4 linked regions of the Homo sapiens genome follow. The protein of the gene in region 2 interacts with the protein of the main gene of each other region in a pairwise test. Each region holds a gene or a part of one and is shown on either strand. Other genes may lie near its edges.

Region 1 (7,063 bases), on a different chromosome or scaffold from region 2:
GGGCTGTGTGAAAACTGTGATATGTGTGTGTGTGTGTGTGTGTGTATGTGTTGTGTGTGTGTAAAAGGCCTTCTCCAGGCCAGGAAGGGCCCCTTGGAATTAGGCCCACCTGTCTAGATCCTCTCCTCAGTGGTGGGTCCTGGGCTGAAACCAGCTTCCACATCATACCCCCAAAGGAAGAATGGGGGTCTTTCTGGAATGGAAGACGCTGACTTCAAGCATTCTTCAAATTACTCTCGTTCCCCAGCTGAGCTTTGTTGCTGAGGGGGTTGGGGACAAGCCACAGGGGCACTTGCATAGCAGGGGAGTAGAATGGGGATAAGGCATATGGTGAGGACAGGGGAGAAGGGGAAGGGCATCATAGCTGCAGGTGAAGGGGGCCTCCAAAAGGCAGCTCCTCTTCCCCCTCATCCCCTCAAATTGCTGCTGGGTTGAGGAGTCAGACTGAGGCAGTATAATACCCTCCCCCATCCTTAACTCTAGAACCCCGGTTTGGTGGGGAGGAGGTGGGAAGCTGTGGAGCTATGGAAAGGCCTCAGTTAGTGAGTCAAGCTGTGATGTGTGTGTCTGAACACAACTGGCTCCCTTGGTATACCGGGGGCTCCCTCTCCAGATGGGTGTGAGTGCATGGTCCTACTGTACACACAGGTCTCAGTATCTATATGTGTCTCATTTGTTCCCATGGGTCTCTGTGTTTGGATACATAAGCATGGATATCCCTGCTCATACAGCAGGAACTCAGGATCTGCATGGTGTATGTCCCTGTCTGTAAACATGGGCTCCAGCAAGTGGATATGTGCGGGCCTGCCCGCTCCTGTCTATCCGCAGGTCTTCCTTCAGGCCTGGCTGGTCAAGGGTCCTGGCCAAAGAGGTAGGTGGTGAGCTCAAGCCGGAGGCCCCGAGCATAGGAGCGAAGAGTATAGAAGAGGGTGAGGAAGTCCTGGGTGCTGAAGACAGTGTCGGCCAGCGCGAAGGCCAGGGTGGATGGGATGACGCCCCGGCCGTACTCCACCATCCATGTGTTTGGCCCCCACTCCACAGCTGTTGCCTCACCAGGCCCGTGTACTACCGTCTCCCCTGGGGGACAGGGAGCACCCAAGTGAAAAGCCAGCTCTGCCCTGCCCTTCCATGGCTGCTGCTTCCCTGGCCCATGGACTAACTAGGGGTGGGGAATGGAGAGGGAGCTTCAGAAAAACAAAAAGCCCTACCTCACTGGGCTGGCCCAGATGGCCACTCCTAAATGTTCTGTGGCATCATCTGACCCACGTCCTCTCTTTGGAGAAGCCATGGACGGCTACCTCGCTTGGCCATGGACCCACTGTATGGAAGTCTGCACTCCCAAGCCTCACTCGAATCAAGCAGAAATTTAGCTAAACCTGGGCTGGGCTTGTAGCTAGGAAAGGGGTAGTTCCAGGACTTGTGAGGCTTTATCTGAAAAGTGTAGCTGTTCAACCACCATGCCTGCGATGCATACACCCAACCTCAAATATACTGGGAAGTCCAGTGCTCTATTTCTTAAGTAAATTGTTTCACTATTAAAAAAAAAAAAAAAAAAAAAAGGCAGGGGAGCGGCCGGGCGCGGTGGCTCACACCTGTAATCCCAGAACTTTGGGAGGCCGAGGCGGGTGGATCACGAGGTCAGGAGATCGAGACCATCCTGGCTGGTATGGTGAAACCCCGTCTCTACTAAAAATACAAAAAAAATTAGCCGGGCGTGGTGGCGGGCGCCTGTAGTCCCAGCTACTCGGGAGGCTGAGGCAGGAGAATGGCGTGAACCCGGGAAGCGGAGCTTGCAGTGAGCCGAGATCGCGCCACTGCACGCCAGCCTGGGCGACTGAGCAAGACTCCATCTCAAAAAACAAACAAATAAAAAGATAACTGTCTGTCTTGTCTTTTGGGGTATTGAGAGCATTTCTGATTACCCATTGTCTCCCCAACAGTTGTTGGAATACTGTCTGGGCAAAATTGTGCCTGGGCAGATAAAAATCAGACATGTTTAATAGGAAGTTGTTATGTTTTGTTTCCCCTTGACAGAGGAAAGCAAGAGTCCCTCAGCTCTGCCCCAACCAATCACCTGTGGCTTATGGGAGGGTGGAGGAAGGGAACCATGAGGAGGGCCCCCCCAACACACTCCTTTTCCATGCCATGCTCCCCGCAATTGTGGGCACCCCCCGCGTGAAGGGACCCACTTCTCTGACAGAGCCTTCTTACCCACCTGGGTAGAAGACCTCACTTTTGGTGGTGCCCTCTCTCCACTGGTGGAAGGTGCCAGAGATGATGGTATCCGAGATCTCAGCCCAGTAGCGCCCTGAGTGACAATCGCACATGACACTATCAGGGTATTCGCGCCATTGCATGGCCCAGCCAAACATCAGAAAGGAGGGCATGGGCCCCTTTACAACCCCAGCCTCCCAGTCTGGCCCGCCGCTAGCACTGACCCGAGTGGCCGCGGGAGCCCAAGGCGGTGCCGAAGAGCAGCACATACTCGGACAGCGAGGCGTGCAGAAGGCACATGGCGCCCATCCAGCCACCCGCATTCACGAACACCCACTGCAGCTCCTCGTCGGGCAGCACGTGGCCTGGGTGCAGCCGCCGCAGCTCCACGATCAGACGAGAGAAGGCCAGCTCGTGGTCCAGCCCTGGCGGAGGCAGAGGGGCGGCGGAGTCAGGGCTGGCACCGGTCCTAGGTCCGGGGATGGCGCCTTCGGAACCCTAGGCTCCGCTCCCAGGCCGGCCGCTCCCCTCCCTGCCCTCTGCCCGCTCACCAGCGTACTGCCGCGCCAACTGCGCTATCTCTTCGCGCTGGAAGACGAAGCTCTGCGTACCCAGCCAGAGCCAGACGACCTGGGTCAGCACCGCTGCGACAGCCAGGAGCAGCGCGGCCCACGCCCACCGCCGGCCCACGGCCCACTGCATCCCGGCGGGCGGCCTGGCACGGCGCAGCTCAGGAGGGAGCCGGGGCCTGAGGCTTTGCGCTCACGGCCTCGGAGCCCGCCGGCTGCCCACGAAGCGCTCCCCCGCCACCGCCGTGGTACGGCTCGCCCTGACCAATCGGAGCGGCCCGGGCACCTTGGCACCGCCCTTCGGTTGAACCATTTCCTCGGGGGGAGCACGGAGGAGTGGGGCGGTGCCGCGCAAGGGAGGCAAGGGGGCGGGGCCAAGTCGCCCAGCGGCAGATGTCAGGGTCTTCAGGCGAGGTCTGACCTAGCTAGCGCCACTCTACATACGGATAGGTGTGGGGATAGTGAGACCCAGAATGGACGGGCTCGCCCGAGCTCACTGGCTGGTGAAGCAGACGAGCCCGGAAGTGAAGCCTTCTGGGACTCAACGATTGTTAAGGCCCGCCTTTACCAGGACTGAAGCGGAGAGGAGGCAGTTCAAGCTGGGAGCCCCAGGGTGGGCATTCCAGAGGCGGTGACACCTGAGCAGTGTCTTTAAGAGCTCGCAGAAGGGGCATGCCAGCCCACAGGGACCAGCCCCTAGAGCAAAGGCCTCCGAGGAGAGACAGCTTGGGGTCTTCAGGGGCCTACAATTCCTTCTCTGTTCTGCGGCACAAAATGTGAGAGGAGGCCTTGTAAACCAGCTGAGGGTTATCAGCAAGGGAGGAAGGGGATTAGATTTTGCCACCGAGTGGCACAGGACTGTCGAGTGGAGGGGAGCAAGATGAGTCAGGGAGACCATGACTGTGGGCCAGGTAAGAGGGAAGGTCTGTGTCAGTGGAGATGGAAGAAAGAAATGAGCTTAACAACTCTGGAAATGGAGTTGGCAGGGCTTGATCTCTTCTTCCTGGAATACTCTTTCCCCCTTTATCCTATCCCCACTTTCCCCTTATTTGGCTAACATCCTTTGCATGTCTAGTGGGCAGTTGAGTGTCCAGGTCTCGAAGCTCAGCTCCAGTCTGGAGATAGAGCTGGGAGTTGTCATTCATTCAGATACTTTGTTGGCACTTGTATGTGCCAAGTTCTGTGGTGGCCATTAGGGATATGGCTAGAAACAATGGTCCTACTCCCCAGCTTAGAGATCTCACTGGAGAGTCTACAGAAAACCTCTAAGAATGGATGAAATCTCACAGGGAGAGAGAATAGAGTAAGATAAGGCTAAAGACAGAGCCCTGGAGAGCACCAACAGCAAAGGGTAGGCAGAGGAAGAAGAAAGCAAAAAGGAAAAGAAACAAAAGAGAAAAGAGGTAGCATTGTGCAGTGATTAAGAAATAAACTCTGGAGCTGGACTGCCTGAGTTCAAGGCCTGGCTCCTGCTACCTACTAGTTGTCTGATCTTGGGCAGTTTACTTAAAATCTCTGTAACTTAGTTTTCTTACCTGTAAAATGGAATGGAGATAAGTACCTACCTCATAGTACATATCTTCATTGTGATGAGATTAGATGGGTTAATATTTATAAAGCAGTTAGTGCCTCACATGGTGAGAATTTTATGTGATGGTTATATATATAAAACATAAAGGAACTGGAAAAAAGTAGCCTCATACATTTTTGACCTTAAAGAAAGAAACTGAGGCCGGGCGAGGTGGCTCATAACTGTAATCCCAACACTTTGGGAGGCTGAGGCAGACGGAACACTTGAGTCCAGGTATTCGAGACCAGCCTTGGCAACATGGTGAAACCCCATCTCTGCAAAAAGTACAAAAATTAGTCAGGAGTGGGGGCGCACACCTGTAGTCCCAGCTACTCAGGAGGCCGAAGTGGGAGGATCGCTTGAGCCTGGGAAGTGGAGGTTGCAGTTGAGCCAACAGAGGGAGACTCTGCCTCAAAAAAAAAAAAAAAAAAAAAAAAAAAAAGGGCCAGGCACAGTGGCACACACCTGTAGTCCCAGCACTTTGGGAGGCCAAGGTGGGCAGGCAGATTTCCTGAGCTCAGAAGTTCGAGACCACCCTGGGCAACATGGTGAAACCTCGTCTCTACTAAAATACAAAAAATTAGCCGGGCGTGGTGGCAGGTGCCTGTAGTCCCAGCTACTCGGGAGGCTGAAGCAGAAGAATCGCTTGAACCCAGAAGGTGGATGTTGCAATGAGCCAAGATCGTGCCACTGCACTCCAGCCTGGACAACAGAGGGAGACCCTGTCTCTAAAAAAAAAAGAAAAGAAAAAGGGGCCGGGCACTGTGGCTCACACCTGCAATCCCAGCACTTTGGGAGGCCGAGGCGGGTGGATCACCTGAGGTTGGGAATTTGAGACCAGCCTAACCAACATGGAGAAACCCTGTCTCTACTAAAAATACAAAATTAGCTGGGCGTGGTGGCGCATGCTTGTAATCCCAGCTACTCAGGAGGCTGAGGCAGGAGAATCACTTGAACCCAGGAGGCAGAGGTTGCGGTGAGCCGAGATCACGCCATTGCACTGCAGCCTCAGTGTGAAACAGCAAAACTCCGTCTCAAAAAAAACAAAACAGGCTGGGCGGGGTGGCTCACGCCTGTAATCCCAGCGCTTTGGGAGGCCGAGGCAGGTGGATCACGTGGTCAGGAGTTCGAGACCAGCCTGACCAACATGGTGAAACCCCATCTCTACTAAAAAATACAAAAATTAGCCGGGCGCGGTGGCGCGTGCCACCCACTTGGCCCAGCTACTTGGGGGGCTGAGGCAGGAGAATCGTTTGAACCCGGGAGGTGGAGGTTGCAGTGAGTGGAGACTGCACCATTGCACTCCAGCCTGGGCGACAGAGTGAGACTCTGTCTCAAAAAAGAAAAACACACAAACAAAAACAACAGTGAGGAAAAAAAAAAGCTGAGGCAAAATTAATATAGAGAGTTTATTTGGGCCAAGGTAGAGAACGACTGCTCGGGACACTTTTCCAAGTTGCCTTGGGGAATGTTGATACAAGCATTTTTTATTTTTATATGTGGTTTTTATTTTTATTTTTTATTTTCTTGGAGATGGATTCTTACTCTGTTGCCTAGGCTGGAATGCAGTAGTGCAATCTTGGCTCACTGCAACTCCCGCCTCCCAGGTTCAAGCTATCCTCCTCCCTCAGCCTCCCGAGTAGCTGGGACCACAGGTGTGCACCACCATGCCTGGCTAATTTTTGTAGTTTTAGTGGAGACAGGTTTTTGCCATGTTGGCCAGGCTGGTCTCTAACTCCTGACCTCAGGTGATCCACACTCCTCGGCCTCCCAAAGTGTGGGATTACATGTGTGAGCCACTGCACCTGGCCACTTTATTTTAACTTAATTTAATTTTATTTTTTTTGAGATGGTGTCTCCACTGTCGCCCAGGCTGGAGTGCAGTGGCGCAATCTCGGCTCACTGCAACCTCTGCCTCCCAGTTCAAGAAATTCTCCTGCCTCAGCCTCCCGAGTAGCTGGGACTACAGGCACCTGCCACCACATCCAGCTAATTTTTTTGTATTTTTAGTAGAGATGGGGTTTCACCATGTTGGCCAGGCTGGTCTTGAACTCTGACCTCGTGATTTGCCCGCCTCGGCCTCCCAAAGTGCTGGGATTATAGGCGTGAGCCACCGCGCCCGGCCTATTTTTATTTTTTGAGACCGGATCTTGCTCTGTTACCTAGGCTGGAGTTCAGTGGCACGATCACAGCTCATTGCAGCCTTGACCTCTTGGGCTCAAGGGATCATCCTGCCTTGGCCTCCCAAAGTGCTGGAATTACAGGTATGAACCATCATGCCCAGCCACAAGCAAGTTTTTAAAGGCAAAAGAGGACAAGGAGTGGGCTGACACAAAATTGTTTAACAGGAATTCTCATTGGCTTACAGAAACAACATTGATTAGTGATTGGCTATACCTTGTTGAACTATAGGGTATGAGTTATGGTGTCTAGACTATGGCATTTTATGGCTATGTGGTATCAATTTAGAGCCCACATAGCAAGTGGCTTCAAGGGGTAATTATTTGGCTCCATGGGGGTGGGGGAAGGTGAGATATGACTGCTGTTACATGCTGTCACTTTTTTTTTTTTTTTTTTTTGAGACTGAGTCATACTCTGTCGCCCAGGCTGGAGTGCAGTGGCGCAATCTCGGCTCACTGCAACCTCCGCCTCCCGGGTTGAAGCGATTCTCCTGCCTCCGCCACCCAAGTAGCTGGAATTACAGGCACCT
Region 2 (7,019 bases):
GTGGGGCGTCGGGCGGGACAGTGGAAGGTGGGAATAGGGCTTGGGATTCGAGGGTGGGAGTTCATCCAGCATCAGAGTCCTCCTCTCTAACTCTGTTATTTGCCTCTCTTGTGCTGCTGGACCCAGAGAGAGGTACTATGCCTATTTTCCCCCTCCTACACCTGGACCAGATGCCTGGAAGCACCCAAGCTCCCCTCTTCTGCCCTGCCCCTTCCCACCCGCTATGCTCCACCATTACCCTCCACCTCAGCATGCTTGCCTGTCTACCCCTCCCCCCCAAGAAGGCAGCACCTATGGGGGACCAGCTGTGGGCAGAAGCCCTGGAGGAGCTGTGATGGGCAGGGAGGACGTGGGTGGGGTGGGGACCAGGCTCAGCACTGGATGGTACTGGGAGACACTGAGGTGCCCCTTCCCCAACAGGGACTTTGCCTACGTAGCTCGTGATAAGCTGACCCAGATGCTCAAGTGCCACGTGTTTCGCTGTGAGGCACCTGCCAAGAACATCGCCACCAGCCTGCATGAGATCTGCTCTAAGGCACGGCCCCCTCCACTCCCTGGACTAGTTGCCACCTTTGCTCTACAAGGGTGTGGGTGGGGTCACTGAGTGCTGTAGGGGGGCCCCAGGGCAATGAGGCTCTAATAGATTCTCCCTGGCTCCTCGCCTCCCTTCCTTCCTCAGATCATGGCCGAACGGCGTAATGCCCGCTGCTTGGTAAATGGACTCTCCCTGGACCACTCTAAACTTGTGGATGTCCCTTTCCAAGGTCAGTGTCAAAACCCCTCCAGGTCCAGCTCAGCTTTGTTGGCAAAGGTGGGTGACCCAAGGAAAGGCATGAGCTCCTGGACAGCGCTGATAGAAAAATGAACACATGAAGACTGAATACTCCAATACGTGGAGGGACTCCGGTTAAAGGGAGGCAGGGGACGAGATGAAAGTAGGGCCTCGGCTGGGCAAGTGTCCAGCTTATGCCCTGCTGGTGGGGCTGCGGGTGAGCAAGGTCTGCCACCATGATCAACCTTCTCTTCTTTCCCATAGTGGAATTCCCAGCGCCTAAGAATGAGTTGGTCCAGAAGTTCCAAGTCTATTACCTGGGGAATGTACCTGTTGCTAAACCTGTTGGTATGTGTGTCCTTCTATACCCAGGGGCTGCTACCTTGATCCTAAAACTCTGCCCCTACCCTCTGCCTTCCAATACTTCTTCTACCAGACCTTCCTCATGCTTGGTGTCTCCCTACCCTTTAAAATGCATCCCACCTCCCCATACTTCTGTCCTAGCTCTATTTCCTGTCCTGCCTATAGCAGCAGTCAGCACGCCTTCGCTGAGCATCAGCCACGTGAGTGGTGCTGAACCAGGCACAAAGGGAGACCCCACTCCTTCATCCCATGGAAAAGCTTTGGTGGGATTGGGAGGCTGATGTTAGATGACTGGAGGACACCAGACAGCAGCCTGTAGCTGGGTTTAGTGTTACAGCACCAGCTGTGGGCTGGGAGCATCTGGAGAAGGAAACAGTGAGCATAATTGTCACATACTTCATTGTTGCAAAGAATTTTTTTTTTTTTTTTTTTAAAGACAAGTCTCGCTCTGTCCGCCAGGCTGGAGTGCGGTGGCGTGATCTTAGCTCACTGCAACCTCCGCCTCCTGGGTTCAAGCAATTCTCCTGCCTTAGCCTCCTGAATAGCTGGGATTACAGGCTCCCGCCACCACGCCTGGTTAATTTTTGTATGTTTAGTGGAGACGGGGTTTCACTGTGTTGGCCAGGGCTGGTCTTGAACTCCTGACCTCAAGTGATCCACCTGCCTCGGCCTCTGAGAGTGCCGGGATTACAGGCGTGAGCCACTGTGCCTGGCCTGATCTGGTTAACTCTTATATTTCAGTGCTTTCCTAGTGTCTGCTATTTATTTGTTTATTCACTTAACAAATACCTTTGAAGCTTACCATGTGGCAGGCCCTGGACTAGGCACAGGGAGAACAGTGGCCACAGTCCCATTTTCCTAGAGGTTATAGAAGGTTATGGTAGAAAAAAACCAGGAATTAATAAAATAATCACACAAATAAATGTGTGAGTTATTCGTTGAGAGAAAGTAGCAAGATATAACAAAGGAATTTCATCTAGTCTGAGGTTGTAAAAGACTTCCCTGTGAAAGTGACATTTGAACTGAAATCCAAAAAATAAGTAGAAGTGAATGCGGTCAAGTGGAATGGAGGTGGGGGTGGGATGGGGGAAGATCAGGGTCTACAGTGGGAGGCACTTTGGCATTTCCAAGGTACTGAAAGAAGGCCAATGCAAGATGAGGCCGACAGCTGGGCAGTGGTCAGGCTGCCAGGTCAGGGACCTCAGGGGCTATGTTAATGATTTTTTCTTCATCCTAAGGGCAGCAAGGAGTTATTGAAGTCTCCGAGAGTGCACTTGCCTTAATCAGATTTGAATTTTGAAAGCTCACTTTGGCTATTTCATGGAGGGGACTGTTAAGTGGGTGGAGGTGGATGTGAGCAGCTCAGTTAGGAGGCTCTTGCTGTAGTCCTGGCCAGTAATGAGAGTATCTTGGGCAACAATGGAGCTGAAGAAGAGTGCGTGGATTCAAGAGCTGTTTAGACGGGTATAGTCAACAGGCCTCAGTGATTGGTTCGATGTGGGTGAGGGACAAGGATGACTCCTAAGTTCCTGGCTGTTGGACCTTCTGGATAGTGGATTATTTCTTTCAAGGTGGCAGATGCTTGAAGAGGCCAATTTGAGCGTAGAGATTGTGAGCTCACTTTTGGACATGCTGAGTTTGAGATGCCTTTGGGGAATCTGAGAGGCAAAGTCAGGTTGGCAGTTAGATTCACAGATCTGGAGCTGAGAGGAGAGGTCTGGGCTGGAGATAGGAGTTTTGGCATTATTGGGTTGTAGAGGTAATCAAAGCCATGGATGTAGAGTAGCTTGGCCCTGGAAAGTGGGCATCCTGAAGTGAGAAGGGAAATGAAGCTAGTCATAGCCTTGAGGCCCTCCAACATTCAATGGATGTGTAGAGGATGAAACTGCCAAGGATAGTGACAACTGGAGAGAGGCAGGAAGAAGAAAAGAGGCTACTTGAAAAAGAAGTGGTAGGGTATCATGTCAAAAGACACACAGGAAGAACTCAACAAATGTTTGATGAATGAAATAAAAAATGAATTAATGAATAAATGAGACTTGCTTCAGATTACATGGCCAGGAAAGCTAGACCTGGGAGTCAAACCCCGGTCATCTTTAATTCTCTGCACTTTCCCTTATACCGTGCTGACTTTCACGTCCAAAATCTTACATTGAAAGAGGGGACCCTTCTTAGAAAAGGTGGGGATTGAACTGAGGTTTTGAAAGAAGGTTTGGATTTGCAGAGTGGAGTGGGTATTTCATTTGGATTCGATGGCACTGCCAAAGACTTGGAGCTGGAGGTGAGAAAAGCATGCTGACCCTTACGCCTTTGCTTTCCTCCTTCTCGTCCTCAACTTCTAAACCCTTGTTGGCTCTTCCATTTGTTACCCCCATTCCCATATGTGCTTCTTTCCATCTACCACTTGACTCTGGTCCTCCCTATGCCAGATCAACTGCCTGTGACCCTTGACTGCTCCGCTTGGACAAGTGGTCTCTAAACTTACTTCCTGCTTTATCTTATGCTCGTTTTTAAACATTAGCCCATCCAGAAGCTGCAATATTCATTCATTAATTATTCATTTATTTAACAAGTGGTAATGAATGCCTGATACATGTCAGGCACTATTCTAGCTTCTTGGCATGCATTAATCAACAAAACTGACAAAGATCCCTGCTTTTATTTAGCTGACATTCTAGCAAGGAGAGACAGACAATAAAATGAGTAAACCATGGAGTATGTTAGAAGGCAACAACTGATACAAAAAAAAAAGAAGAGAAAAGCACAGCAGGATTAGGGGGATTGCATGTGGGGCTGGAGGTCAAGGTCACAGTGTAGGTTTTAGTCCTGAGTTATCAAATCTGACAGCCTTTTTCCATACCTTGGTCCACTGCTTTCACTGCTTCCCTGCCAAACTTCCCAAGACTCTGAGGCCAGGCTCCATCTCCCACAGCCCCATCTATTCAGCAGTTTGACTATGATGTCCCTTTCACACACCTGAACTTTGAGATTTCCAATTGCCCTGGCCTAAATGTCATAAACATCACACCCCTCTGCCTGGCTTTTGAAGCACTCTGCAATCTGACCTGGCCCATCCACTTCTGTGACACTTGGTTTTACCAGTTCGGGTGCATTTGCCCTTGTTGCCTTGAGAGTGACTTGCTCATGCATCTGGAATTTCTTCAGCAGATAAGCCCTGTGTTAGAATTGGGGACAGAGGGATGAATTAAATTCCATTTCTGTTCTTGAGATGGCCACGGCCCAGTGTGGAAAAAAGTTTTCCAGCAGTTACAAGACGTTATGGTAAGAGTTGTCTCAGAGTTGTCCTCTCCCTGCCCTGCAGCAGGCATGGCTTCCTAGACAGCACCTAGTTGGAGCCCTGAAGGATGACAGTCTGAAGTTTCTCAGTCCAGCAGGGAAAGGGCACTCAAGACAGAGGCTTTTCCCTCAGTTGCAGTCTGTGTCTCTCAAGGGCATTCTCTTCTCTTGCTTTGTATTCCCCATCTGCTTTACAGGCCATTTGCCAAGATTAGTTGTTAATAATAATGCTACACAAATCATCTGAAGCTCAGGGAGCAGTAAAATATGAAGCTTGACAGCTCTGGTGAGGCCAGTTTTTGGAAGACTTGTATGCTTTTGGGAGCAGTTTGGCCTTGATCCAGCTAGAAGTCAGATGAGCAAGGCCAAGATGGGAGAAGACATGCAAGGAAGACATTTGTCCTCTGCCCAAAAGAGTCCACGTGGTCTGCTCCTAGTGGGAGCTGAGAGCCACTAAAAGGGGCAGAGGGCCTGGGAGTGGACCACAGAGGCATGTGCCTTTTGCACTGGCATTGTGCAGAGACAGTAGATCACACAGCCAGCGTATGAGTGTGGGGACTAGAACTGATGCCTTTGCCACAACATGTGCTCCTGCCTTGGTGCTCTGCTGAGTGCAAGCAAAAGTGGGATCCATGAGGGGAAATGTTTAACAGCAGTTTGAGGTGGAGGAGGCCATGTGTTATAAGGGAAAGTTGATTGATCTGAAAGTCAGGAACCTTGGGTTCCTTGGCTCTTGAGCACATTATAGACATTCTTGAGTAGAACTAAGATCTTGAAAGCCCTTCTAGTTCTGAAAACTAGTAATATAGAGAAGAGGTAGGAGAAAGGCATGGCTAAGAACCCAGGCTCTGGAATCAGACTGCCTGAGCTCAGGTCCCCATTCCTCGATGTGACCTAAGGCATATTACCTATCTCTTCCGTTTCCTTATTTGTAAAATGGAAATAAAGTAATCTATTGTGATGTTGTTGTGTGGGCACAAATGAGGTAATACACTGTAATGACTTAGCACAATGTGATACAGAGTAATCACTCCTCAGATAGATATCTTAAAAAATAATTGGGTCTTGGGAGAGGACTGGCCTGTAGGGTCTGATTTGGGAGTTATTGTGGTGTGAAGCAATGTGATGTCTGAGTGTGATGAGCGCTGAGAGAGCATGATTTGGGGAAATCAGAACTTTGAGAGGTCAGTCAGTTCAGAAGTGTGGAGGAATAGGCAGAGCCGGTGAAAATAACGAGCCTAGGATCCAAGATTTTAAAAAGTAGGAAAATGTCCAGTTACTGAAGCCAGGGGAGGAGAGCCCCAGGGAAGGGATACTTGGACAGCGTTGTCCAAAATGTAGGCTGGCAAAGTGGGGATGGGGCAAAGGCCCTGGGTTTGATTGGGTGGAACTAGAGGTCCAGGGTAGAGCTGGGGTATCCTCTGTCTACCCTCAGTGGTATCTTGTGTCCATATGTTCTAGGGGTAGATGTGATTAATGGGGCCCTCGAGTCAGTCCTGTCCTCCAGCAGCCGTGAACAATGGACCCCAAGTCATGTCAGTGTGGCCCCTGCTACCCTCACCATCTTGCACCAGCAGGTAAAGAGCTGGGGTAGAAGTCGTGGCTGCGCCTTGCCATAGAGGGGAGACTGGGGGTGAGGGGAAGAGCTGCTAAGATGGATGTGGAACACAGTGTGGGGTTGGTGTTCCTTTTTAACTGAGTTCCCTCCATGCAGACAGAGGCAGTGCTGGGAGAGTGTCGGGTGCGTTTCCTCTCCTTCCTGGCCGTGGGCAGAGATGTCCACACGTTTGCATTCATCATGGCTGCCGGCCCAGCCTCCTTCTGCTGCCACATGTTCTGGTGCGAGCCCAATGCTGCCAGCCTCTCAGAGGCTGTGCAGGCTGCGTGCATGGTAAGCTACTAGTAGGGTGGTGTGGTGGTGGCGTGGCCCCATGGGAGGTAGGCTGGGGAGTGACTGCCCTGCTTGCCTCCGCAGCTTCGCTACCAGAAGTGTCTGGATGCCCGTTCCCAGGCCTCCACCTCCTGCCTCCCAGCACCCCCTGCTGAGTCTGTGGCACGGCGTGTAGGGTGGACTGTCCGCAGGGGTGTTCAGTCGCTGTGGGGCTCCCTGAAGCCCAAACGGCTGGGGGCCCATACCCCATGAAGAAGCCCCCACCTTCCCTCCACCTGCTTGTGTTGGGCCCCAGGGAACTAAAGGGTGTGGGTCAGGGAGGGGTCTAGAGGCTATTCCTAGGCCTCAGGCCTCCCAAATATGCCCCTCCCCAGTAGCTACGGTTCCCTGCCTAGGAGCTGGGGAGGGAGAGATCTAATCCCTTCAAGGAAGTGATAACACTGGAGTGGTAACAAGAGGAGCAGGAAGCAAGGCCAGCCCTGGTTCTCCATCCCCATGTGTTTCAGGTGGAACAGGAGGAACTGGTCCAGGCCAGGCCTCATCCTCCTGGACCCAGCAGGGGCAGAAGGAGGAAGGGACTGGTCCAGGCATGGGTCCCTTCCCCCTGCTCCATGGGCACCTCTGCTGTATTGATATCACTAATAAAGTCTGTCTGCACTGCTGTGTGCCTTCTTATGCCTGTACCACACCATCAAC
Region 3 (7,476 bases), on a different chromosome or scaffold from region 2:
CGAGATCCCGCCACTGCACTCCAGCCTGGGCGACAGAGCGAGACTCCGTCTCAAAAAAAAAAAAAAAAAAAATTTGTACTGAGTTGGTGAGTCACATGAGCTCTGCTACAAACAGACTCAAACTACTCAAGTTAAGGCAGTTTGAAGCAAAAAAGTCTCCTTACCTGGGCGTGCTTGGGATGTTAAGACAGAAGTATCCTTCAGCCCAGCCCAGCACTGCTCTAACAGCTCCAGGATGCCAAACATGTACCCCTGGTTTTGCTCGGCTTCTCTTTGTTTCTTGGTGTAAGCGGTGCCCTCCTGTGCCATCTTGTCTGCAAGAGACAAGTGGGATTTTACAAAATTTCAAGATGCCGGCATGGGCTGGGCTGGGTTGGGTTCTGGAGGGAAAACCCCGGAGAAATTACCAAGAAATGTCTTAATAAGACCAGAGCTCTGGATCCTCTGGGCACTCTCTAGAGGCGGGATATATACAGTCTCTGAATTTTAAAATAGAAAACAGTGGGCAGCGGGGAACGGAGTAGAGGGAATCAGAGGTGCCAAACATTAAAGATATTTTGGGTAATAAAAATTAAAAGTTCATGTATCGCAAGGACAAAAAACCAAACGCCGCATGTTCTCATAGGTGGGAACTGAACAATGAGAACACTTCGACACAGGAAGGGGAACATCACACACCAGGGCCTGTCGTGGGGTGGGGGGAGGGGGGAGGGATAGCATTAGGCGATATACCTAATGTAAATGACGAGTTAATGGGTGCAGCACACCAACATGGCACATGTGTACATATGTAACAAACCTGCACGTTGTGCACAGGTACCCTAGAACTTAGAGTATAATAAAAAAATTAAAAGTTTATGATTTAAACAAAGATTCTTATTTCCTGGGATCATTTTGTCACCTCAGTGCTTGCTTCTGGGTTATGGACACTTGGGGGGGTGGGCCGGATTAACTGTCTTGTCTCTAAACACCTGGGTGCGCTGGCGCTCACTCTCAGCTGCGAGCTGAAGCCCACGCTGCTCTCAGGCTTCCCGCAACAGGCACCTGCGACTTCGCTCACCAAAATCTTCCAGTGGCCACAGTGAGCGGGCAGGACTGGTGCCAGCAAGCCCCAAGCATCCCAGGCCCTCTGGACGCAGGTGACTCTTCTGGCCTCTTTGGAAAGCCATTGGAGCTCGAGAGGCATAGCCAGCTGCCTCCTTTCCGTCCATCCCCAACCGCGTTCTCTAAGCCACGTTCTGTGCGCCTTACTCCCAGCACTCAGCCATTCCCCAGCCCCAGAGGCCTTGGAGTAGTGACCTCTGCCCACCAGAGAGGAGGGGGCCGGAGGGTGGGGCGGAGCCTTGTGGCAAGGCAGGTGGGTGCAGGCCTCTGGGGCCCCAGACTGCCGCGTCTGGCTCTACCAGGCTGTGTCTCGGGCCCCGTGCCTGCAGCTGCAAGGCGGGGAAAGACCTATCGGGAAGATCCACCTCGGCCTGGGCAGAAGGAAACTTTACTGAGAGTCTTCTCTGAGTTTGGAATTATGCGGAAATTGAACCCAAGATGAATAACACGCAGCCACAGCCCCAGAGAAGCTCGAAGTCTAGTGGGCTGCACCGACTGCGACAGGGACCCAAAAGAGGCTGGGGAACAGGGATTGAAATGGAAGTGTGAGAGTGAGAGCATAGAAGGGGTCCTAGCCCAGCCCAGGAAACAGAAAAGTCTCCCCATAGACAGTGAGAGGCTTGTACTGATACCTGAGGTACGCGCAGGAGCTGCGTGAAAGGAGAGGCCCAGAGCCAGAAAAGAGGAAGGCGCATCCTGGACGCTCTGCGCCCTGGAGGGAGACGAAAGGCCCGGAGAGAAGCAGATTAGGTCGGTGCCCTTAGAGGCCTCTTCCTTCACTTCCGGGAAACAGCGGCGGTTCCCTGACAAAATCCCTGTTGCTCGGGGGTTCGGACGCCTTGCTAAGGCTGGCACGCAGCGGACCTTGAGTAGCTGCGCTGTGTACTGAACGTGTGCACAGCTTCTCCAGGCAAATGTGCAAGCGGAAAGACCTCATCCAAGCGTTATCTCCAGCCCTGGAGGAGAATGAACTGGTAGCCTGGGGCCAAACTTCAGGCCGTGGACAAAGCAGGAGGAGTATTTAGGCAACCTCTGTCCTAATGCTTGTTCTGGTTGTGACCGAAGTTGCTGACTCTCCTCAGGGGTCACGTCTCCAGGACGTGCTACCCGGTGGTTTAGACCCGTCAGGGAGGCACAGCGTGAAGGGACAGCGCAGCGCAGTAGAGGCACCTGCTGGAGACAGCACCAGGCCAGACCCCAGGATCACGGGAACTCCTGCTCCCGCCACAGCTCTAAAGAGTGTTGAATAAACCGGTGGTCACCGGTACTGCGTAAGGGGTGTGCGTGGCTTTGCAGTTCGCCTAGGAGACAAGCTGATGCACGGCCTGGAAGGTGCAGCCCTCATCCCTGCGTTCCCTCCCCGCGCGGAGTTCCTGTCTCAAGGCCAAGACGCGCAGCGCTGATGCTGGCCCCTTCCTAGGTCAGTGCAGCTGGACCAGGCAATCGGGGTCTCCGAAACGTCGGGGGGTCAGCTGGCGCCCTGCCCACCATCGAACGCCCTTCGTATCACTCCGCTCCTCATTGCGAATTGGACTGCGCATTGGCTGCGACCCAAGGCTGAACACAAGAAGCTTGGAGAGGAGCTCGGGCGTTTGAGGAGAAGGAAATATGAGGAATTGCAGGAAGGCGCTCGCCTGCCCGAACTGCCTCCGGGCAACTGGAAAGGATTGTCCTGGAAACTGAGAGGAGAGAAAGGACGTAGGACCTTGTGCCAGATCCCCTTGCTGAGTAATTTCCAAGAGCTTGGTTTGCATTAACCCAGAACTTTGGGTGTGCGTTTGGTGTCCCCTGGGGGGTTCTAGAGTGAGAGATTGGCGGGTCCCCTCCGAACGCTGGATCTCGCTGCAGATATCAGTATTTCTCTCATTCCTTCCCAAAGCCGTCGGGATCGCCCAGTAGAATTAGAATTGGGTGATTCCTGAATCTCCTATCCCTGGCTGGCTCTGAATATAGCGCACCGCTGGTCAGACCTGAGTAGGGGTTGCCAGCGACGCTCGGAAACCCTTTCCAGACTGGGCTGAAAAGTGCGTTTGCTTCCTGAGACCCTAAGCTAAATGAAACTTCCTGCAGAGAAAGCAGGGTTACAGGGCTGGATGGAGGCTCTGGAGAAAGGCCAGAGCTGGGGTTGGGAAGGAATGTAAAGGCTGTGCACCTGTTTGCCAGCCCTCGGAGGTGGAGCCCATGGCTAAGCAAATCAAGCGCAGGATCAGTCTTTCCAGCGTGGTTTATCTGCATGGCAGGTGTCGATTGCCCCAATAGTCTCATCAGGTGTTCCACATTGGGCTGCAGAGCCATGAAATCCCTAGGCGTGACGTCTAGTGGAATGGGGGTGAAAATAGGGATTTTCAAATCCTATACATCAAGCATCACTCCCAGAGTCACTTTTGACAAATCACCTAGTTTTTCTCAACCTTAGTTTCCTAATCTGTAAAATGGGGATATTGCCCACCTCTCTGAAAAGTGCGCCAAGGGTGAGAAGTTCCACGCGTCTTTCTAATTTTAGGAAGGGGAAGCAAAGTCTTCTCCTCAAACTTGATACACTACATGCTAGAGAAAGATCCTCCCTTCCGGCCTCCTCATTCCCTGTCACCCTCCCCCACTCCTAGCCCCTCGGAGCCAACGGAGCCTTGCGCGTTTCTGGCCGGTCCTCCCAAGAGAGAATGGTGCAAAAGCCAATAAGCCTGGAACACACGCAGGTCCCGCCGGGCCTGGGACAATGGTTTCCATTTAATAAATATTTCCCCCAAGGGCATTTCACATCGGGCAGGCAATTATTCAAAGGAAACAGGCGCGCAGGTTGGCTCTGCGGGTTATTTCGTCCTCTTTACCCGAAGAATGCTCATTTGACGCAAGAAACGAGTCTCGCAGCCTCCCTGGGTGGGAAGAGGCGCCCAGGGACAAACCGACCCTGGTTGCGATACACCGTGAGACTCCGCTGTAGGGCCGCTGCAGAAGGGGCACCGGGAAGAGCCCCATACCCAGCCTCTAGGCTCTTCTTACGGTATGAACATTTGTGGAGTAAAAGTTGGAGGTTTAAAGACACTAAATAATAATAACATAAATGGGAACTGCAATAGAAATCTCAGCCCCATCCCTGCCCCAAAAGTGAAGAACAGGTCGTAGTGCTTTTAAGGGCTCACCAACTAGGGTTCGAAATCTCTGCATTGCCTGACGCGAGGCCTTCCAGGAGCAGGTCAGACAACATTGCTCAGCCACCCAGGGTCCCAGCGCTACGCCCGGGCGCCGCATCCTGGGGCAGGGGTGGATGCCTAGTTGCAGGGGCTTCCCGGGAGAACACTGCCAAAGCACCGCCGAGGGTGGGGCGCGAAAAGTTTATTTCGCTTTTACCCTGAGCCTGCTATATGTTATTTTTCTCTTCCAAGGATATTTGACAAGAGGGCAAAGTGCTGTCCTTGCATTTCGCGGCAAAGCTGTCCTATTTATCAACACAAGCTCTCGCCTCGCTCCCTTTGCTGTCCCTTCCCCGGCCTTTGTATTTCAAGCCCTAATTCTCTTTCACAACCGGGAAAGGAAACAGGAGACGCGGAAGAGTTTTATTTGTTGACAGTGCCCGAGACAATGTGGAACCGAAGTCCCCAGTCTAGAGCTAGCCTCTCTGCTCTAGCCCTCTCTCTGCCTCTGTCCCTCACACCTCTCCCCGCCCCCACCAGTCGCGCTCTCTGTTTCTTGCACCGGCGTGTTGGCAGGTGCGCCCCCTCGGCTTCTCTGCTGCTGATTGGCGCCCAGGTTGGGGAGTCGCCGCCCCGCGCTTATGTCAGAGTGCGTGCAGTCCCGGCCCACCTCGCCTTTGAACTTCGCCGCTTTTGGCTCTCGTTCACCAGCCTCCCCGCATTCTCAGCCAGGTGCAGCGCTAGGCGCGGCAGCTCCGGGAAAGCCACGGGAAGGGGGAGCCACGACTGGAAACGCAAGAGGAGAGAAGGGAACTAGAGAAGGCAAAGGTGGAGAGGGGGAGAAGGAGGAGCTTCTTGCCCTGGCTAAAAAATTACCTGGCCACTTAATCCCGGAGACTCCGATACTTGGGTCCCAGCCCCTGGTGCCTGAAGCCCCCCGGCCGATCGCCCTCTCCTCCCCCGCCCTTTCTGCCCCCACTCGCTCCCCCGGGGCTGCCTGGGCGCTGGGACTGGCATGATCAGCTGAACTTTGTGGGGTCAGCGCTTCTCTCTGGCTTCCCCTCAGCGGCGCCAAGGCGAGGGGAGCGCAGAACCCCGGCTCAGGACGGACAGACAGACGGCCAGCCGCGCCCAGGCTCGTCTGCAGAACCCTTGCACTCCCTACCCCCACCCACCTAGCCGCCGGGACCATGTCCAAACCTTCAGACCACATCAAGCGGCCCATGAACGCCTTCATGGTATGGTCCCGGGGCCAGCGGCGCAAGATGGCCCAGGAAAACCCCAAGATGCACAACTCGGAGATCAGCAAACGCCTAGGTGCCGAATGGAAGCTTCTGTCCGAGGCAGAGAAGCGGCCATACATCGATGAAGCCAAGCGGCTACGCGCCCAGCACATGAAGGAGCACCCTGACTACAAGTACCGACCTCGGCGCAAGCCCAAGAACCTGCTCAAGAAGGACAGGTATGTCTTCCCCTTGCCCTACCTGGGCGACACGGACCCGCTCAAGGCGGCTGGCCTGCCCGTGGGGGCCTCCGACGGCCTCCTGAGCGCGCCCGAGAAAGCCCGGGCCTTCTTGCCGCCGGCCTCGGCGCCCTACTCCCTGCTGGACCCCGCGCAGTTTAGCTCGAGCGCCATCCAGAAGATGGGCGAAGTGCCCCACACCTTGGCTACCGGCGCTCTGCCCTACGCGTCCACCCTGGGCTACCAGAACGGCGCCTTCGGCAGCCTCAGCTGCCCCAGCCAGCACACGCACACGCACCCGTCCCCCACCAACCCTGGCTACGTGGTGCCCTGTAACTGTACCGCCTGGTCTGCCTCCACCCTGCAGCCCCCCGTCGCCTACATCCTCTTCCCAGGCATGACCAAGACTGGCATAGACCCTTATTCGTCAGCCCACGCTACGGCCATGTAACCCCCAGCCCGGCCCGGACCTGAGGCGTGGTCTGAAAGCCGGGTCTGCACCCTGTCCTCTGAGCCTAGCCCCGGCCTGCAGACGCCTCCGGGGTCAGCCCTGCCGCTGTCCCTTACACCACCCAGACTTTTCCTCTCTCTTCCAGGGGGAAGGGTGGGGCGTCCTCCCGGACCCAAGGCGCAGACAGGTACCGGAAACTTGCAAACGTTATGTCAGCTACACAGCTGCCCCTATCCCGACTCTCCCAAAACAAATCTCCGACTGTACCCCCTTTGGACAAAAAAGTAGGCAGTTTTGCTTTATTTATATCCCCTTCACTCTCCTCGGATAGGCTTTGGACTCTGAACTCCCAGATTCTGATATTATATCTACAATATGCATATATTTTTTCCTTTTGTCCCCTGAAGAAAAGAGTTAGCTGTGTCTCTGTGTTTTGCCATCAGACACAACTAGGAGCCATTTGCTCTTCATGTATGGGGGGGAAAGGCTTCAAAGTTTTAAATTACAGAAAGGGAAACATTTCTATTTAAAACCATGCTATGATAGTGTTTGCTTCTTTAAAGGGAAAACAAAAAGGACCTACATGGTTATTTACTTTGTGTAAAGCAGTGCTTCTAGAGATCTAAGTTTACTTTTAGACAGAATGTCGGGTTATGAAGTCAGGAAGTAGAAGGTGAACAAAAAATTAAAAGAACAAAAACAACCTAAATGGTCATAAATGTTTTGACGATGTCTTGGAAATGTACCTAGAAGGATTTTACCTCGTTGCTCTGTTCATTTGTTGAACAAAGACGTTTTGAATAAAGACAATCTGTCATTGTAAAAAAGTAACCTTTGATGTGCCTAAAATCTGAAGTCAGGAGCCAGGTTGGAGGGACTGGAAAGTCGGGTGCGGGGAGGCTGAAAGTGCATAGAGCGACTTTAAGCAGTGATGGCTGGTGGCTGCCCCCCGTTGGCCCAGCTTGGTGGTCTGCGGGTTGGGTGTAGAAGGGCCTAGAGCTTCGGATCCGTCCGGAATGCGCCCTGGAGATTGCTTTTTGCCTTTAGAGGCTAGACAAAGGTATCGTTCCCTGGGACTTCACTCTCTCCTCCCATTCTTCCCAAAAGGGTCAGGCCACTTCAAGGAATGAATGAACTAAGTCAAAGGCCGACCCAGACCGCTGAGATCTGGGTGAGTTTACTTTTTAAAAAACCAAACGCTGAAGGAGCAGGGAGAAGCACCGAGTCTCCTGGGAACCAGTTGCGCGCTGAACACCCCGTCCTGCATTGGATGTTTAAGTTCAAAGCATGGGAGAAGACTGGGGGAATCAGGTATTCTGCCTTTTTAG
Region 4 (7,963 bases), on a different chromosome or scaffold from region 2:
TGGTGTTCATTCAAATGGGACGGACTTGTATTATGTGCACCAGAATTGAACTTCCAAGTTGGCTGCGTGCAATGTAAGCCCTACCCAACAACTTGAAGGCTTGTTTTAGTCACTAAGGATGTTTACCCACAGTGACTCTCAACTGATTCTAGAAAGAACACACCCCCCACATACATACACATACACACACACACACACACACACACACACACACACACACACTAGGGCACTTACTCGCATGGTACCACGTCTCAGAGCTCATTAAAAAGAATTCCTGGCCGGGAGCAGTGGCTCATGCCTGTAATCCCAACACTTTGGGAGGCTGAGGCGGGTGGATCACAAGGTCAGGAGTTCGAGACCAGCCTGGCCAACATGGTGAAAACCCCCCTCTACTAAAAATATCAAAACTAGCCAGGTGTGGTGGCGGGTGCCTGTAATCCCAGCTACTCGGGAGGCTGAGGCAGGAGAATCGCTTGAACCTGGGAGGCTGAGGTTGCAGTGAGCCGAGATCATGCCACTTGCACTCCAGCCTGGGCAACAGAGCAAGACTCCGTCTCAAAAAAAAAAAAAAAAAAAAAAAAGAATTCCTAAGCTAGCCACACTTAGGTTTATTCTCTAGTCTTCTGTTCCCAAACCCTGAATACATGTTCCTTGGAGGAAACAAGCAGCAACCAGATGTCCAAGGTCTCCTGAGTTAACTCCGTCTTCCCTGGTGAATTACAACTTATTGCAGACACAAAGGAGAACAGAGAGACAAATGACACATAAACAGGAGCTTCACTGGCTGGGGGAGGGGGGCATGGAGAGTGACGTCAGTTTTCCCAGAAACCCATTTATCACGATAACAAGGTCTCGAGTGCTTAGGCTGCTCTTTCAGCTTCAGAATCTGGCGTACAATTATGTTCTTCATCATACAGTATGGCAAGGCCAGCCAGAGCAAACTGGAGCCATGCAAAGCAAACCAAGTGGCCCTAAAGCACCCCCTCACCCCCATCTGCAGAACAAAGGGCATCTCTAGGTTGCCTGAGTTGTGCCTGAGGTGAAACACACACAACCTTCTGGAATGTTCCCCATTGCAACATCTGCCCTGCAATCCTAATCCAGGCAAGAGAAACTGGTGAGAGTATGGAGGACAGGTCGATGCAAATTCATTAGCTGACATGAAAAATCATTAGCGTCATTTTTGGATGGAGCTAGTGTAATCCCAGAGATTAATTCCTCTACTTCAGCTATACCATCTCTGAAATGCAGGTAACCAGGAGCAGAAAAGCCACAGCAGAAAAGAGGGAGCCCTCAAAACACTAAAGCAATAAACAACGAGAGTGCCAATCTTGGGGGAAGAAAATTCTCTCAAATTGCATCATCACAGAGAATGTCCCCTGTCTACTCCTGGTCCTTCCACAACATGACTGCATAAAGTGCTCTGTGCTAGGGTGTGCAGGGGGTGGAGGAGGTTCCGAAGAAATGATCCTGCCCTTCCAAACAGGGACAAAAGAGACATTAATACATATTCTGTAGAGAAAATATTATCAGATTCTGGCTTCAGATTTTGTAAAATCAATTTCAATTACACCAAATACCTAGAGGCTTTTTTTTTGTACTGTAGTTGCATTGCATGAACTATTTTCCTAAATAAGTAAGCTACAAGGTTGAAAAACATTTTTATGTGGTTCAGAGATTTTCGTCAAGTAGTATGTGGTGTCATGGGATTTGACCTACCTCTGTCTCCCACTCCTTCCTCACCTCGGGGTGCTGGTGGGCTTATTAAAGTCCCAGATACCCATGGATGAATAGAATAGCTAGGGTGTCCCCCCCAAATGGAATTCATCGCCCTTTGCAACCAAACTTCTGGTTTAAAAAACAAACATGGAGCCTCAGGTCACTTCAACATGGTTTCTCTGCACATCCCAGGCTGGAAAACTTCAGTTCTTTAAATGAAGATTTTTTTTTTCCCAGAGTCGGTCGCCAACAAAAAAAGAGACGGCACCGCTTTTGCGAGTCTCACACTTATTTTCCTGAGTCTCCATAGAAAGAAGCCAGCTCCACAGGTTTTGGCACACAAGCCCAGTTACACTGAACATGCACCCGAGACAGATCCTCAGAGGCCCGCTCCAAAACATGCCAAAATACGCAGCCAGCCACCTACAGGCCAGCCAACTGCACCCCACACTGACGCACAAATGAGACCCAGAGGCACACAGCACAAGCAGACAGAGAGGCGTTCGGACACACACCACAGAGGTGAGCACACTCAGAGAAACACGCGGACTTCTTTGGGTCACAGACAGAACCCCGGCGCCGCCGCCGCCCGCCCGGGAAGACACGAGCGCGCGCGCGTGCACACATACGCGCACACCGATACACACACAGACGCAGTCACATATGTAATGCATATAGAGAAACCCTATCCCAGCCAGTCACCTCCCCGCCCCCCTCGCCACTCACCGCCTTCTGCCCCAGGCTAACCCCAGCCCCGCGCCTCTTTGCCTGTGCGGTCCCGGGTCACAACGGGCAGCCGTGCGCAGGGGCGCGGCAAGGCCAGGGTGCCAGGGACCCGGAGGGCTCGGCGGCTCCTACGGCCATTCATTCGGCAACGCCCCAGCCGTGGGGCCGCAGCTGCAGCGAGGGAGGCGGTGGCGCTCACTGCGGCTCTTGGGCAATGCAAGTTCAGCCGCCGGCCCGCAGGTTTTGCCTGCCCCCCTGCCGCCCCCCGCCCCCCGCGCGCCACCACCGTTTTCCGGGACAGGCTGAGGGACTGAGCTGCTGACCCCGGGAGCAGAAGTCCCACCGTGCCCTTGGCTCCTGGATGCTGCCCACTGCCCTCCTCGCGATGTGGCGGCGGCGGCCAGGTCTCCTTGACCCTCACCAGGCCCTCGGCCCCGGCCCTGGCACCCAAGCTCTGCACTTACCACCTGGCGAGCTATATCGGTCGCTGCCATCGCTCCTGCGTCCGCCAGGGCTGCCACGGGTGCCGCCGCAACGGGAGCTACTGCACAGGAAACAGAGGAGCTCCTCCGACAAAGAGAAAGTGTTACACTTCGGGCGCGACCAAGTCCGGTGGGGGGAGGTGCAAGGGAGGGGCCCCCTCGCCGCTGCTCCAACCCCAACCTCCCCTCTACCGCCCACCCCTTGAAAGTAGGGTATGGAGAGGGGGCGGATTTAACGCGCCGCTTCCCCCTATGGCCAGACCAGTTCCAGTTCTTCCTGCAACCCCAGCCATAGGCTTCTACGAAGGGGGGCGGGGGCTCCCCTCGGTGACCACGTCCTCTGCCCCCCCCGCCACTTGGCTCCGTGGTACGTCCCGACCTCTGCTGAATTGTCACACCCCCCTGCTCTCCTTTACATCCCTAAGTCCCCAGACCCCGAAGGCTGGAAGGGAGCCCCCGCCCCTCCCCCCTCCCATACTCTGCTCAGCGGCCGAGCTCTGCAGTTCTCCTCCCGGCCCCCGTTACCCCCCTTCCTTTCCACCGAGATCCCAAGGTGCTTAGATGGGTGCGCCTTGGCCGCTGGAGTCTCGATGCCCCACTGTCGTGTCTCCCTCCCTCCATGGCCCGGGAGCGCAGCTGCGGCCGAGGTACCGGGGAGGCCTGCGGCACCTGCCGCTCCACAGTAGAGCTTAGAAAGGGGGCCCGTGGGGGGAGCCGCACTGCAGCCCGGCAACTGAGCTGAGCTGTGGCATGTGGGGTCCGAGGCTAGAGGTCTTGAGACGCTGCTTCTGCCCTGGGGTTTCCAAGCCTTGGGTGCTGTGGGCTGTAATTTCGTGGAGCCAAGCTCACCACCTTTGGGTACCTAGTACAGACGGAACCCACGCCTCCTCTCTCCGACCCAGCCCTAGACGCTCAGCAAGACCACCCACCCCTTCTAGTACCAGAGGAAGGGCTGGAGATGAAGGTTCTCAGCTCTATGGAGCGAAATGGAGGGGCGGGTGACGGGGAGCGGCCTCCAGTCACTCTGTCCCGCCCCCTGATTTCTCCTTGACCCTCATTCAGCCCGGGACAAGGCGGCCAATAGGGCGCAGAGGAGAGAACTTCCGAAGGCAGGGGTGCGCCCGCCCGCCCTCCTTATCCCCGTGGCCCACCTCCGCGGGTCCTCTCTCGTGGGCACCTCTCCACTTCTCCGGCCTTGGCGCCCTCCCCTCTCTCTTGGGACTGGCCTCTTGCTAGCTCCCTGTCACTGGAGCACGCTGGCAGATTTGGCATGCCCGAGGCCCCAGCGGGAGGGACAGTACATTCCACTCCTCAAAAGGGCAGGTTCCCTGGTGTGGGAGAGAGACCTGGGCCCGCCAGAGGGACCCCAGATGGGGGAGGGGATGACAAGGCTATGGAGGAAACCCGGGCCCAAGAGGGGGCCCCAATGGAGCATGGAAGATGACCCCGTAAAGGCCCAAGGCTGGAGCAGCTGAGGAGGAGGCAGGAGAGAGGGAAAAAGAAAAGAAGGAACCAGGGAGAGAGAGGAAGAAGGGACTCGATCCAGAGGCCCTGGTCTCGGAGAAGTCAGGGAAGACAAGAAAATGGAGTAGCCAAAGAAGAGCATGCCTGGCACTTGGTTCCACCTGCTGGATGGAGCTTCTCACACTCTCTCGGGAAGCCCTTTATGTATGTACCCTGTGCGCCTGGAGAACAAGGACTCAGCAAACGCATCCCAGGGCCGAGTGCAGGGCCTCGCAGTCAGGAGGCACTCTATTAAGCTGAGGGCAGAGAACTTGGATGCGTGCGAGGGGGGCGGGGAGAAGAAAGAAGAGACACAGTGAGGGAATAGCAGTAAGGACAGTCATGAAGAGCCAAGTATTCAGGGAGCGCCACTGTGCGCCTTCATTGTGCTGGAGACCCAGGAGCGGCCTAAAGAGAAGAGCCTGGCAAAATCAGGGATCAGCGCAGAGGAGCTCCGCGAGACAGAAGGCGCAGGCCATAGGGCGGATGGCGGTGGCAAGGAAGAGGGGCAGCTGGAGTCTTTCAGACTCTCTGGAGCTTTGGGGCAGGGCCTGAGCCCTGGACTGGGTTGGCAGTGACACGGGGGACCAGTGCTATATCTGAGGAACCACGGTGAGGCTTGGGCCCCAACCGCATGGGGGCGGGGAGTCAGAGGTGACTGGCGGCTTCCAGGCTGGGTGTCTGGGACAGGGCTCTTCCCTGGCAAAGGCTAGGGCGTGGTGGACTGAAAGGCCCCGAGGTCACTAGCCCCGATCTGGACTTGGGGTTTGGGTGGTGGTGGGACAAAAGGGGAGAATTTGGAAGCCAGAGCAGAAAGCTGCTGCCGGAACGGGAGGGGACTGGAGGGCTGCGGGTCTCCCGGGAGAATCCCCCACGCACTGCCCCGCCCGCCTTAGCACTCCTCGCGGACTGAAGCTCCGTACTTACCGGCCCAGCGCTGGGGGCACCTGAGCACGGAATCCTTGGTGTCTCATCCATATGCCCCATTCGGCCCTCCTGTCCCTAGAGACTACCAGAACCTCACTGCGTCCTCCTCCTCCAAAACGCTGAACCTCGAAGACCTGAACTAAGTGCTTAATTCAAGTCTCCTGGGACCCTTTGGTTCCTCCAATACCTGCCCACCTGCGGCTACAAGTCCCTCCTGGGGCCTGGGCCTCCAGCCTCCTTCGGTGGGGTGTGGGTCAGTGTGTGTGTTGGTCTTGATGTGTGAGTAGATGTGTCGGTGTGTTCGTGTGTATTGTCAGTGTGTGCTAGCTGTGTGTCTGTATATCTGTGTGTCAATGTGTGTGTTGGCATGTGTTGGTGTGTCAGTGTATTTCAATGCATGGTGAGTGTATGTGTGTCAATATGGAGAGAGGTGTTAGCTCACTAGCTTTACATACCTTATCTCACTCAGTGCAGTGGGCCGACGACTGAGACGTGTGAATCAGAACATTCATTTCAATAAAGAGGTTTGGAAACTCTCTGGGATCATGCCTTTCTTTTTTTTTCCTTTTTTATTTTTTTTTTGAGACGGAGTGCTCTGTCATCCAGGCTGCAGTGCAGTGGCGTGATCTCTACTCACTGCAACCTCTGCCTCTTGGGTTCAAGCAATTCTCTGCTGCAGCTGGGACTATAAGCGCCCACCACCACGCCCAGCTATTTTTTTTTTTTTTTTTTTTTTGTATTTGCAGTAGAGACAGGGTTTCACCATCTTGGCTAGGCTGGTCTTGAACTCCTGACCTCGTGATCCACCTGCCTCGGCCTTGCAAAGTGCTGGGATTATAGGTGTGAGCCACCGCACCCGGCCTGAAATCATGCCTTTCAGTCTTTGTCCCGGGTCACCTTCCCAAGAACAGGGGAGATGGAAGGGCTGAGGAGGCAAGAGGGCTCATGAGTGGTCAGTTCGTGAGTTTTCTTCCTTGAATGTCTGTCCTCGTTGATGAGTGAAGCCAAAAGATTCCCCTTTATGAAGAGTCATTTGGGACTCCCGGGCGCTTCCATGAACATGTATGTGCTCATGTTTGATGTTTCCTTGTGGGGTCCCTTGGGCCCAGCATGGTGTCTGGCAGGTGTTCAATCAATGTTTGTTGAGTAAAGGAATGAACAGAAGCATGTAAATGAGGTGGCTTCAGTATTTCCATGTCCTTAAAGAAGCTGCAACAAACAGAGACTTCCCAGGGGCAAGCAGGTGGCTGTCATTAGCATGCCAATGTTTGTGGAGCCAGACTCTACTGCCTGGGAGCAGAAATGGCTACCCCTGCTAGATAAGAGTGGGCCCTAATTGGAGCCCAGCTTTCCACAGGTCACTGCTGGAGTTGGGGGTGCTAATACTGGATAGAGGAGCAGCAAGCAACTCAGGGGCAGGGAGGGAGAAGAGGGCACTGAAATGGAGCTAAGAGGTCAGGAAAGGGCTTTGTCCTGAAACTGTGGCTTTGTGATAGGAGAACGAGAAAGATGGTAGAGTCAGTCTCAAGTGGAGAAGCCCTGAGAACCATCTGAAAAATAAGATCAGAAAGTTGGAGGAGGGGCCGGGCGTGGCGGCTCATGCCTGTAATCCCAACATTTTGGGAGGCTGAGGCAGGTGGATCACTTGAGGTCAGGAGTTCGAGACCAGCCTAGCCAACATGGTGAAACCCCCGTCTCTACTAAAAATACAAAAATTAGCCGGGTGTGGTGGCGCATGCCTGTAGTCCCACCTACTTGAGGCAGGAGAATTGCTTGAACCTGGGAGGTGAAGGTTGCAGTGAGCCGAGATTGTGCCACTGTACTCCAGCCTGGGTGACAGTGCGAGACTCCATCAAAAAAAAGAAAGGGAGGGGGAGAGAGAGAGAGAAAAGAAAAGAAAAGAAAAGAAAGAGAAGAAAGTTGGAGGAGGAAGACAAGGTGAAGCAGGGAAAATGATCCGGGATTCACCAAATCCAGACAGTGCCAATTAAATCAGAAACTCTGTGAAGGGGCTGAGTCAAAATGAACTAAAGATCCCTTTCCTCAATTCTGCATTATCACCTGCTGCCCCTGGTTTTGCTTTAGTTTCTTTCCAGTGTTTCTTAAAATGTGGCCTTTGAAGCATCAGCAGCATATGGGAAGTTATAAAAAATGCAAATTATTGGGCCCCACCCGAGACCTACTGAATCAGAACTTCTAGGATGGGACCCAGGAATCTGTATTTTAACAAGTGCTCCAGTGGATTCTGATTTATGCTGAAGTTTGAAGACCACTGGTTTATCTTGAAAATCTAGCCCTGATGGGTTGGGATACAGGACTGGTAAGGTTTGGTAGGATATTGAAGGAGAAGTTTGAAGGCCGGGCCATTGCCAATAATTGTAGATCTGTTGGATTTCTATGGTGGGAGGAGTGAGGGTATGGGAAAGGGGGTGCCAAAAAAGTAATAGAAGGGAACCCAGCAGGAGCTAGCTCACTAGAAGAGTTAGAAAGATAAACTTTGCCTCCCGATATGGTTAGGCTTTGTGTCCCCACCCAAATCTCATCTTGAATTGTAATCCCCATAATCCCTTTGTGTCAAGGGAGAGACCAGGTGGAGGTAGGGAAAG

The links.
Region 1: the proteins of APBB1 (region 2) and SIGMAR1 interact in binary tests that used the Homo sapiens proteins (3 or more experiments, as listed by UniProt).
Region 3: the proteins of APBB1 (region 2) and SOX14 interact in binary tests that used the Homo sapiens proteins (3 or more experiments, as listed by UniProt).
Region 4: the proteins of APBB1 (region 2) and SEPTIN6 interact in binary tests that used the Homo sapiens proteins (3 or more experiments, as listed by UniProt).

Annotation. Positions count from the first base shown.
Region 1 is NC_000009.12:34,634,782-34,641,844, forward strand, and holds the start of SIGMAR1 (sigma non-opioid intracellular receptor 1), read right to left. Parts: upstream 3,007-7,063; 5' UTR 2,917-3,006; coding exon 2,766-2,916; intron 2,640-2,765; coding exon 2,439-2,639; intron 2,332-2,438; coding exon of another isoform or gene 2,309-2,331; coding exon 2,216-2,308; intron 1,078-2,215; coding exon 851-1,077; coding exon of another isoform or gene 837-850; 3' UTR 1-836. UniProt on the Homo sapiens protein: Functions in lipid transport from the endoplasmic reticulum and is involved in a wide array of cellular functions probably through regulation of the biogenesis of lipid microdomains at the plasma membrane.
Region 2 is NC_000011.10:6,395,090-6,402,108, reverse strand, and holds the end of APBB1 (amyloid beta precursor protein binding family B member 1), read left to right. Parts: coding exon 1-27; intron 28-126; coding exon 127-132; intron 133-420; coding exon 421-535; intron 536-679; coding exon 680-764; intron 765-1,036; coding exon 1,037-1,120; intron 1,121-5,893; coding exon 5,894-6,009; intron 6,010-6,146; coding exon 6,147-6,323; intron 6,324-6,407; coding exon 6,408-6,575; 3' UTR 6,576-6,984; downstream 6,985-7,019. UniProt on the Homo sapiens protein: Transcription coregulator that can have both coactivator and corepressor functions. Adapter protein that forms a transcriptionally active complex with the gamma-secretase-derived amyloid precursor protein (APP) intracellular domain.
Region 3 is NC_000003.12:137,759,360-137,766,835, forward strand, and holds SOX14 (transcription factor SOX-14), read left to right. Parts: upstream 1-4,955; 5' UTR 4,956-5,425; coding exon 5,426-6,148; 3' UTR 6,149-6,975; downstream 6,976-7,476. UniProt on the Homo sapiens protein: Acts as a negative regulator of transcription.
Region 4 is NC_000023.11:119,690,167-119,698,129, forward strand, and holds the start of SEPTIN6 (septin-6), read right to left. Parts: upstream 3,003-7,963; 5' UTR 2,940-3,002; coding exon 2,910-2,939; intron 1-2,909. UniProt on the Homo sapiens protein: Filament-forming cytoskeletal GTPase. Required for normal organization of the actin cytoskeleton. Involved in cytokinesis. May play a role in HCV RNA replication.